Homo sapiens: one gene and its partners. The protein of the gene in region 1 purifies or fractionates together with the protein of each later gene. This does not show direct contact. Each region holds a gene or a part of one and is shown in the gene's direction. Other genes may lie near its edges. The genes, in order: MAP1B, HADHA and DNAJA1.

What was found.
Region 2: the proteins of MAP1B (region 1) and HADHA purify together in Homo sapiens (affinity purification with mass spectrometry; 2 studies listed by BioGRID, with this or other methods). This does not show direct contact.
Region 3: the proteins of MAP1B (region 1) and DNAJA1 purify together in Homo sapiens (affinity purification with mass spectrometry; 2 studies listed by BioGRID, with this or other methods). This does not show direct contact.

Annotation. Positions count from the first base shown.
Region 1 is NC_000005.10:72,187,423-72,191,176, forward strand, and holds part of MAP1B (microtubule-associated protein 1B), read left to right. Parts: intron 1-3,754. UniProt on the Homo sapiens protein: Facilitates tyrosination of alpha-tubulin in neuronal microtubules. Phosphorylated MAP1B is required for proper microtubule dynamics and plays a role in the cytoskeletal changes that accompany neuronal differentiation and neurite extension.
Region 2 is NC_000002.12:26,230,929-26,234,682, reverse strand, and holds part of HADHA (trifunctional enzyme subunit alpha, mitochondrial precursor), read left to right. Parts: intron 1-327; coding exon 328-466; intron 467-2,403; coding exon 2,404-2,523; intron 2,524-3,754. UniProt on the Homo sapiens protein: Mitochondrial trifunctional enzyme catalyzes the last three of the four reactions of the mitochondrial beta-oxidation pathway.
Region 3 is NC_000009.12:33,028,262-33,032,015, forward strand, and holds part of DNAJA1 (dnaJ homolog subfamily A member 1), read left to right. Parts: intron 1-1,623; coding exon 1,624-1,728; intron 1,729-2,178; coding exon 2,179-2,406; intron 2,407-3,754.

The DNA of each region.
Region 1 (3,754 bases):
GCTTGGGAATTTATCCTGGCTGGGAAACTTTCCAAAGTAATGCACCTTGTTTATCTAGCTTACATGTTTATAGCAATTACAGAAACAATTCAGACCCATCCCCATAGCAGGTTGGGGCCTGCCTGTGGCCGATAGCAGATTTCTACATGGAGGGACTGAGGGATGTTCTGATAAGAAGAGTCCCCACATCTGTTTAAAACTGTCTTTCTGAGGTGGTGGCTTGTCTGTCTCATGTGTACTGTGAAGGGCCACGTGTCCTTCTGCACTTAATTTTCCTTGGCCCTGAGGTTCAGAGAAAGCTCTGTTTGTACTTTTCATCACTGGCAAGAACTGTAAGCACACTGCCCAACTTCATCTGAGTCACCTGGAGGCTTCTTTAAAAACACTGATCAGAAGGCATAATAATGTTCACTCTCCAGCCACTGGGGTGGGGAGAATGTAAAACTGTGAAAAGGAACATTTTTGAAGCCACAGCTGTCAGAAGGTGTGGCGTCATCTGCATCTTGAAACACATACCAGGATGGGATCCCCCAGGCAGGCAGCTCCTTTCTCAGAGGCTTCAGAGCTCACTCACAGTTGGTTCATCTTTACCACTTCAAAATGCAAGCTTTGGCTGTGTCTTCTTCCAAGGCCGCTAGAGTTCACGCATCTTGCCTCATTCATCTCGGTATCCATTGCACCTGCACATAGTAAAGGCCTAGTAAGCCGCTGTTCAATTGCATTGAAATTCCAAAGCTAGGGCTACAATTCTCACTCTGCCTACTGTCCTGAAGTTGTTGTTTGATCACTATAATGTCAGAATGTTTTGCAAGATTATGTCCCCATGTGCATGTTGTACCCGGAGGCAGGTGGGCATTTGTCTAGTAGCTCTGGGGTCACACACATTATTAGCATCTTGCCTCAGGGAAGAGAGAAAGCTGCAGAAGGCTGGAAGTGGCCCAATGACATGGTGAGCAGTTAAGTGGCCTGCTTATAGCTCATTTGCATGCACATGGGCACTTTCCACATTCCTGTGCAGTTCTGTAGTTATTTTCTAGTGGTTGGTTTCTACCCAAGTCATTGGTTTGTCTTTTTTGCCGAAAAACCAGACAAAGGAAATATGTAAAGAAAAGTGTCATTGCCAAGATTTTCAATAAGGAAGTAACACGATTTGGCATATTTGCATCTCAAATAATATCCCTCCTTCCCCTTCTTTAAATAAGGTTGTTATGAATATTGCTGCTTAATCATTTTTACTAGATTATGGAAGCAAAATTTTAGCACCATGGACTGTGCACGTGTCAGATTTTGCCACTAATTACAGAAAAAAAAATTTGCCCTAACTGAAGAACTCGAGTTCCGTGGAAGGGCAGATTCCCCAGGGTTTATACTTATTGGGGTAGGTTCTGGAGGACACATATTTTGATTATACTCAGGCAGGTATCATTATGGTCAGAGACCATGTCATATTCTCTTCTGCCACCCACAAAGAAAGGATGCCACAGCTAAAGTGAATTGAAAACCACTGGACTGGACCAGTGGTTATCAGCCTTTTGGAGCTAGGATTGCCCATTGTTGCCTTGGAAAAATGGTTGAGTAACTGAATAACAAACGGACCTTGAAGACCACTTGTTGTCCAGCTCTTTTCCTTTTATCCAGTCCTTGAAACATACTAGTTAACTCCAGGGAAACCAAAACCACAATTTGGGACAAACAAAAATGATACTTTTTAAAAAATATAAGAACAGCTAAAAATAAATGGACTGAAAAAATAGAACTATCAGTACACTTTGAGCTTCAGGTTTTGGAGTCTTAATCACTGGAGATCAATTAACAAAACCAGAACTAACAGACGGTACAATTGTCTGGCTAACCCCACTCCTCCCTGAAATCCAGGGATGGTGAAATCATCATCTCCTGGGGACATTTTTCAGTCTCTGTGTTGGAAAGTTTTTCCTTATTTGTCTCATTGTATCTTCAAGGAAGTGATGTGATCCCTTTCCCACCTACAGTGTCTTAGTTACCCTTCACCAACACTGCCGATTTTTTCCCTTTCAGATTAATCATCTTCAGTTTTACCCACAGTTCTTCATAACCCTGCTCACTGTCCTTCAAACTTGTTCCTCTGTCAAGAAAGGGAGGTGAAGGCCAGGTGCTATGGCCCATGCCTGTAATCCCAGTACTTTGGGAGGCCAGAGTGGGAGGATCACGTGCGGCTAGGAGTTCTAGGTTGCACTCAGTTATAATCTGCACTGCACTCCAACCTGGGCAACAGAGCAAGATTCTGTCTCTTAAAAAAAAAAAAACTATACTTAAAACATTAAAAAAATAAAATAAAAAGAAGAGGAGATGGGATGGGTATGGGGGGAATTCAGGAGTTTAGTCCTGGTCATGTTTTAGTGCCTTGAAATCAGACAGTTGGATTTATGAGAACAGAGCTCAGGGAACTCAGAGTCGGGCTGGAGATACTAATTTGAAATCCATTAGCATATTAGAGGTATTTGAAGCCCAGAAGACACATGATGTGACCTAGAGTGAGAAACATTTTAAGAAGAGAAAGGGCCCAGGTCCAGTGTTGACAGGTCATAAGGCCAAGAGGAAGGAGCCAGTAAGGGAGACTTGTTTCAGGTTTTTGCTTGTTGGTCTAATTTCTCTAAAATGTCATGACTCAAACTGGACACCCTATTCAGGAGTCATTTGACCAGGTTAGGATTGTGAGAGTTGATAATGTCTATAGTTTTCAATACCATCTTCTATTAAAGAAGTCTAAAAGTGACTTTTGACCATCACCATACACCATTAATGGTCAATGGGGAAGTCAATGGGGAAGAGATGCAGGCTTTGAGGGGCTCGACAATTTATATAATTTAAGGGCTCTTTTTTAAGAAAAATGAAACAATTATTAATATACAGTTAAGTACAGGGCCATGCCAATGAGGTACCTTGAAGTTTAAGCTTCTTTGGCTTCATGATAAATCCATTTGACTGTCAACTAAAATCCCTGAGTCTTTTCCATGGATATTATTGTTAAGCCACATCTCCCAATCCTGTAGTTTACCCTGCTGGTTTATTGAACCTTACATTTATCCCTTTAGAATGCCATCCTGTTAGAATTGACTTAGCCACCATCATCCCAATGTCAAGAGCTTTTATAAATACCTTAATTCTGCCATTCCACATTTTGCTGTGTCTCCCATTTTCATACCATGCACAAATATGATATGCATGCCTTCGCCATTTTTATCCAAGTGAATACAGGCCAGAAAATGAGACTTGAGGCAGCCCATCATAGACCTCCCTCCAGGTTGACATTAAGCAGCACTATTTATATGGCTGGCTGGAAATCCACCTAATTCTACTATCACACTGTTCAGGGGTCCTATTAAATGTCTGGCTAAAACCCAGAGATACACTGTCTACTGTATTTCCTCATCAGCCAAGCAAGTAACCTAATCAAAAAGGAAATGTAGTTCGTAGGCCATGGTTTAGAAATTCAAATCTTGTTTCATTAATCTCATCTGCAGTAAAACCATTTATTTCTTACATCTTCCTTCCTCTTCCAGTATGCCTGCATTTAATCAGAAAAAGTAATTAACAAAAAAGATTATCTTTGTCCCAAAGCATATTCCTCCTTGTTGCATCTGTCATCCAACTTTGTAAGAACCAGGGTAGCACTCAGTGTGGTTACATCTGAAGTACCCACTCCAGGAAGATAACATGTGTTGAACTGGCCAAGTTTGGCACACAGATCAACAAACATCTACTGAGCCTGATT
Region 2 (3,754 bases), on another chromosome or scaffold:
ACTGTTCTCCTGCCTCAGCCTCCCAAGTAGCTGGGACTACAGGCGCCCGCCACTATGCCCAGCTAATTTTTTGTATTTTTAGTAGAGACGGGGTTTCACCGTGTTAGCCGGGATGGTCTCATGGATCCAGAAGTTTAACACTCTTTATGGAGAAATGATGTTGCTGCTATTGTGCTATTTGAAGCAAAATCATTCTTAACCTTCTATTTGAAGATTTGTCATCAAATATTGATGCATGATAGGATAAGTGTATAGTGAATAAGTATTGAACCAAATAAATTATAGTTTTATCTTTTTCTCTGTTCTCTACTTTTATGGATAATGCAGCATGTTAGCCGCTTGCAAGACCCTTCAAGAAGTAACACAGCTATCACAAGAAGCACAGAGAATAGTTGAGAAACTTGAAAAGTCCACAAAGCCTATTGTGGCTGCCATCAATGGATCCTGCCTGGGAGGAGGACTTGAGGTATAGATATTCTAAAGTTATTGAGACACTGTCCAACTCATTGGTGGCATTCATCAGCTGTAAACCCTTAGGCTACTGCTTTGCCTGGAAAAAGTTTCTGGAGGAGAATCCGCTTTGTTTTTTGTTTTTTGCTTTGAGACGGAATTTTGCTCTTGTCTCCCAGGCTGGAGAGCAATGGCACGATCTTGGCTCACTGCAACCTCTGCCTCCTGGCTTCAAACAATTCTCCTGCTTCAGCCTCCCCAGTAGCTGGGATTACAGGTGTGCATCACCATGCCCAGCTAATTTTTGTATTTTTAGTAGAGATGGGGTTTCACCATGTTGGCCAGGCTGGTCTCAAACTCCTGACCTCAGGTGATCCTCCCGCCTCGGCCTCCCAAAGTGCTGGGATTACAGGTGTGAGCCACTGTGCCTAAATAGCTTTGTTTTTAGTTATCAAACTTCTGGATAGGTGTTAATCCTTAATCCACATGACACAGAGCAAGTGGCACAAAGCAAGTAAATGAAGGTGTGATGTTTTCATTTGAACTGCATCTCTAATGTCCTTTTCAGCTGTAAAAATCTTGTTCAAGTTTGCAGGGCAAAGATTCAGAAGTGTGATCTAGGCTCTTAAGCTACTTAAGTCTGGTTGAGACACATAAAGCATAATATAAGTGCTTTGTCAGTAGTAAAGACGGTAAATAATAGAAGATTTGAGAGAAGAGATGCTTACTAGACCCGAACATGTAGGAAAGAAAAGAAGGGGAAAAGGAAACATTCATTGAGCACTTTTCACATGCTGAACTCTGTGCCAGACACTTTCACATATGCAGTCATTTACCACATAACGTTTCAATGACCAATTGCACATACAGCAGTGGTTCTATAAGACTGTAACACTACATTTTTCTATACCTTTTCTGTGTTTAGATACAGAAATGCTTATCACTGTGCCACAGTTGCCTACAGTATTCAATAGTCACATGCAGTCCAGGTTTGTAGCCCCTTAGGACAGGGGTCCCCAGTTCCCAGGCCATAGCCTGTTAGGAACTGGGCCCCACAGCAGGAGGTGAGCAGTGGGCGAGTGAACATTACCACCTGAGTTCCGCCTCCTGTCATATCAACAGTGGCATTAGATTCTCATAAGAGCTGGAACCCTGTTGTGAACTGCACATGAGAGGGATCCAGGTTGCGCACTCCATTGGCCTCTATTGCCTGATGATTTGAAGTGGAACAGTTTCATCCTGAAACCACTCCCTCCCACCCCACCCCCAGTTCTTGGAAAAATTGCCTTTCACAAAACCTGTCCCTGGCGTCAAAAAGGTTGGGGACTGCTGGACTAGGAGCAATAGGCTATCCCATATAGCCTAGATGTGTAGCAGGCTCTGCCATCTGGGTTTGTGTAAGTACACTCTGCGATGTTCACACAACAACAAAATTTCCTAATGGTACATTTCTCAGAACATATCCCCCTCATTATGTGACACATGACTATATTAATTAAGAAAACCTGTGCCTGGTCCTAAACTATAAGCAGAATTTGATTAACCAGAATATGGAGGGAAAAACAATTCCGCATATGGTATGGTGTGAGCAAAGGCAAAAGCAAAGCCAACTAGGACACTGTAAGTAGACGTGCTTGATTGGAGAGTCCGGGGCTTTTTAACCTGGGGTCCATATAAAATTGTGTGTGCATTTTTCTCTTGAGAGCTTCTCTAGCTTTCAGTAGATTTTTTAGGAGATCTACGGCCCAAAAAGAGGTTAGTAAATTAGAGGAAAAGTATGAAAAAAAGGCTAAAAAGGTAAATTCTAGAAATTATTAAATGCCAGCCTAAGGAATTTCAGTTTATTCTGTGAGCACATTCCTGCTTTATAAATAATCTTTAGACCCTTATCCATCTCAAGTTGCTACTAAGTTACATTTTCTAACATTCTAATTTTCTTTCATTTGTTCAAAGGTTGCCATTTCATGCCAATACAGAATAGCAACAAAAGACAGAAAAACAGTATTAGGTACCCCTGAAGTTTTGCTGGGGGCCTTACCAGGAGCAGGAGGCACACAAAGGCTGCCCAAAATGGTGAGTCTAACATCCCCTTTGTGAAGCTATATGCCCTCTTTAGATCTGTTTTCTTGTATAAAATGCATAATATGGGCATTCATTGTAGAATTAAAAAACCAAATAAAATATGAGTGTACAGGATCAGTGACAGACTTTATTCCTGGTACTTATTTTTTCAATTCCACAGATTTTTTTTTTTTTTTTTTTTTGAGACAAAATCTTGCTCTGTAGCCCAGGCTAGAGTGCAGTGGTGTGATCTCAGCTCACTGCAACCTTCTCCTCCCAGGTTCAAGCGATTCTCCTGCCTCAGCCTCCCCAGTAGCTGGAATTACAGGCGTGCACCACTGCACCCAGCTAATTTTTTATATTTTTTAGTAGAGATGGAGTTTCGCCATGTTGGCCAGGCTGGTCTTGAACTCCCGACCTCAGGTAATCCTCCCGCCTCAGCCTCCCAAAGTGCTAGGACTACAGGCATGAACCACCATGCCTGGCCTAATTCCACAGAATTATTGATCAAGGTCCTTTGTTAGTCTCTGAGGAAGGATAAAGATAACTAAGATGCATGTCTTGCATTTCTGGAGCTTATGGTTTAATTGGTTCCTTTTCCACATAATACCATCTTAACAGTTTTTCAAAACCATGAGTCATATTAATATTTCATTACAAATATAAGAGGCAGACCTTTTCCCTCATTGTCTGATTTGGATGTTCTCACTGCTGTGTTGTATGGAACCAAAAGAGGCTCAGCAGGCTTTGAATTCCAAGGAGAAGGGAAGGACAGTCAGACCTGGATGCTGCAGAGCAATCTTAATGTCAACTCAAGGGCCCACTGAACCTTATAGCTTCTGGCACTGTAGATTCCTCAGTGAAAACAAGGCTCAACAGAAATACTCTTTGCAGGGAAGTTGATCTCAATTGAGCACAAAAGAAAACAAGGTTTATGGTGTTAATTTTCTAATAATAATAATGTGCTTTCCTTCATAGGAATGTCATAAGGATTTATTGAAAGAATGAATATGCATATATGTGTATCAAAAATATTTGCTGAGTTTCTTTCTTTCTTCTTTTTTTTTTCTTAAACTATAGCTGGTATTTGAATGTTGCTAGAAGCCTTTCTTCTAGTATGCCATATAAGCAGCCCTAGCTGAGTTCTATTTTTGTTAAGCTTAAAATTCTTTTTAAAGACTTTGTCAAAACTATCAGGTTTCTCACAGTCTTCTCTAGTTTCAATATGAGAATTTTATTTTAT
Region 3 (3,754 bases), on another chromosome or scaffold:
TCTTGTTTCAGCTTTATTGTGTCAAAATTATGTATTTAATATGTTTATCAGGAAAGTGGCCTATGGGCTCTAGAAATACTGCTTATAGGAGTAAAATGTTCAAGAGAAATCAGTCTCACTTTATTTCCAGTATAGTGTATACAAATAAGGGCTGATGAGCAGAACCAGTTTTAGAATGAATGGCCAAGCCATTAAATTTCACTTTGAGCTTCTTAAGGTTCAGAAAGATTTGGGAAATTGTTTATTCAGTTTTTCTTTAAAGATCTTCAAGGAAAGGATTATGTTTTTATTAAGATACTTAAACTCCTTAAAAAGAAAGTCCACAATCCAAATGACTTGCTTAGTAAATTGTTAGAATTTGTCCACAAAAAAGTAGTGGTGGTTTTTCACTTACCTTACAAAGAACCTGCAGGTTAACATTGGCAAGCTCTTTTATGTGGCTTATGATCATATTGAGAGGTTATTTCTGGGGAAATGCGCTTCATCAAGCTCTAGAAGCTTTATTTTTCCTTCCTTATACTCAACACTGTTCAAAATAAGGGCAGCTAGATTTTAGCGTGCCAAAACTAAAGGTGGAACTATAAGCAGAAGGACATAATTAATGGTATTTCATGCTTGATTAGAAAGTTAAAATGTTCATTAGGCATATTGTACAGAAACGAGTTTGAGAACTTTTTTCAGTTGGTGGAAAGGCAATAATATTGTTGTGAATAAGTCCTTGTGGAAGGACCACTAGTTAGGAACTTACTAACTTACTAGCAGGTGACTTCATACTTCTAACCTCAGTGTCCTTATGAGATCTTGACCTTCCATTTCCTATTCTGATTTAAGTGAAGTAAGGCACTCCTTAGTAGCCACTGGCCATGTGTGGCTCCATTAATTTAAGACAAAAACAAAAATACGGTTTCTTAGTCTAAATGGCCACATTTACATGCTCAATAAGCACATGTGATTGGTGGCTGCTACGTTGGACAGAACAGATATAAAACATTTATCACTGCAGAAAGTTCTGTTGGGCAATGCTATTATAAAAGGTATGAGAAATTTGGCCTTCAAAACAACCAGTGCTGGCCCAGCAGTAAATGGGCTGTTTTCTACTAAATCAGGAAGAAGTAGAAATTGATACTCTTCTGTGGTGACTCAATAAATACATCAGCTTCCCTGGCCAATCTTGATTAATGAGAATTTACTGTGCTACAGAATTTTTGGATGAAGTAATTGGCCATGTTGCTCAATACGGTACGAAGTGAAAGCTTCAAAAAATATATTGTGACAGAAATGAATGTTTGGATTATTGTGAAATGTGCCCTTTTAAATAACATTGGTTTTTCTCAAGTGACTTTGAAGGTAATGCTTTTGCTTACCATATTTCCAAGATGGCCACGTCTGTGCCCTTAAGCAAATATTTAATCTCTGACCTGATTTTCCCTCATCTGTGATTACATCACAGTTTGAGGATCATCTGTGATAACGTGAACATTCTGTGTATATAGTAGGTAGTCAACAGATGTACCCTGTGAGGCTCATCTTTTATTATTCTTTGCCACATTCTTTATAGTGCCTTTAGCACAAATAAGATCCAGCATCTTAAACAGATTTGCAATGAGAAATATTTTGTTTTAGGTAAAAATGTTGTACATCAGCTCTCAGTAACCCTAGAAGACTTATATAATGGTGCAACAAGAAAACTGGCTCTGCAAAAGAATGTGATTTGTGACAAATGTGAAGGTACGGTGTTTTTTTGTTTTGTTTTGTTTTGTTTTTAAGCACCTTTAATATGACACCTGAAAATGGAGCTAAGACTTCTAGATAGATATGTAAAATTGATTCATGTACACTACCTAGATTTTGGGGGAGGAGAGGGCAGATATGAAGAAAACCAACTGAAAACCTCCCACCTAAAGAAATATCAGCACTTTTTTCTGTGTATATTTTAAATACAGTTGGGATCAAGCTAGTTTGGTATCTTTTTTGTAATAAGTAAAATTTATTGGAAAGTGTGTTCTAATAAGAATGAAACTCATTGGAATGATCTCATCAGTTGTACATTCAGAGGGTAGCATTCCATCAGGCTTCGAAAATATTAAAAGTATAGCATTTAGGAATTGTCTTCTTAAAACATTTACTACTGTATACACTACTAATTCATACATTATTTAATTTTCTTTTTAAATTTAGGTAGAGGAGGTAAGAAAGGAGCAGTAGAGTGCTGTCCCAATTGCCGAGGTACTGGAATGCAAATAAGAATTCATCAGATAGGACCTGGAATGGTTCAGCAAATTCAGTCTGTGTGCATGGAGTGCCAGGGCCATGGGGAGCGGATCAGTCCTAAAGATAGATGTAAAAGCTGCAACGGAAGGAAGATAGTTCGAGAGAAGAAAATTTTAGAAGTTCATATTGACAAAGGTGAGTTCTGAGTTACTTATTCTGAAGTCTTGAATGCTGTGGCAGATTTATTATTAACATTTTATAATTGTTTAAAAATCATTCTTAATTAGGTTATATATGATCCTATCAATCAGAAATAACTCTTAGCAGCTTAGTAAATAATGTTCTTTTATCCAGACATAATTTTGCACATTGGTATATTACTAATACAGAATATATTAGGAATCTCCTCATTTAATATAACAGGATCATCTTTTGAAATCTGTGGTCCTGTAAATGATTGAATAGTGTTCCAAACTTAATTCTCTCCTGTTAAACCATAGTTCTTCCATCTTTTAAAACATTAGAATTGTACACATTCTTAATTAGGAGTTACTAGATCAAGGGATAGGCATACTTTTAAGGATTTGAAAGGGGAGTTAGGTGAAGAATTGGGTCTCATAAAAATTCATGGTTTTTTTGGAGACGGAGTTTCGCTCTTGTTTCCCAGGCTGGAGTGTGCAATGGCACGATCTCAGCTCATTGCAACCTCTGCCTCCCGGGTTCAAGCAGTTCTTCTGCCTCAGCCTCCCAAGTACCTGGGATTACAGGCACCCAGCACCATGCCCGGCTAATGTTTTGTATTTTTAGTAGAGACGGGGTTTCACCATGTTGGCCAGGCTGATCTCGAACACTTGACCTCAGGTGATGACCTGCCTCGGCCTCCCAAAGTGCTGGGATTACAGGCATGAGCTACCGCACCCCGCCTCATGTTTATTTTTTAAACCAATGGGCATGTTTTTGTTTGTTTGTTTTTTTCTGAGGTAGAGTCTTGCTCTGTTGCCCAGGCTTGAGTGCAGTGATGCGATCTTGGCTCACTCTAACCTCTGCCTCCTGGGTTCAAGCGATTCTCCTGCCCCAGCTTCCCAGGTAGCTGGGACTACAGGTGTGCACCACCACACCTGGCTAATTTTTTTTGTATTTTTAGTAGAGATGGGGTTTCACCATGTTAGGCTGGTCTCAAACTCTTGACCTCAAATGATCTGCCTGCCTTGGCCTCCTAAAATGCTGGGATTACAGGTGTGTGCCACCATACCTGGCCTGGGCTAGTTTAAATAAGCGTATTGGCCCACTTAATTGGCTTACTTGCCCATCTATTATATTTAAATGCTCCGTTAATTGATTTGATAGACTACCTTTCATTTTTTTAGACTTGACACTTCCCTAACCCATTGGGCTCCAGATTTAGAAATAACTATATAACCTTTTTTTTGTATTCTCGGGATTTGATTGATTTGTCAATTTTTAAATTTTACTCTTGTCAACTTGCAAAAACATTTTAAAATGTATTACAGCAATACACTGCAGAAATTTTAAGAAATGTATA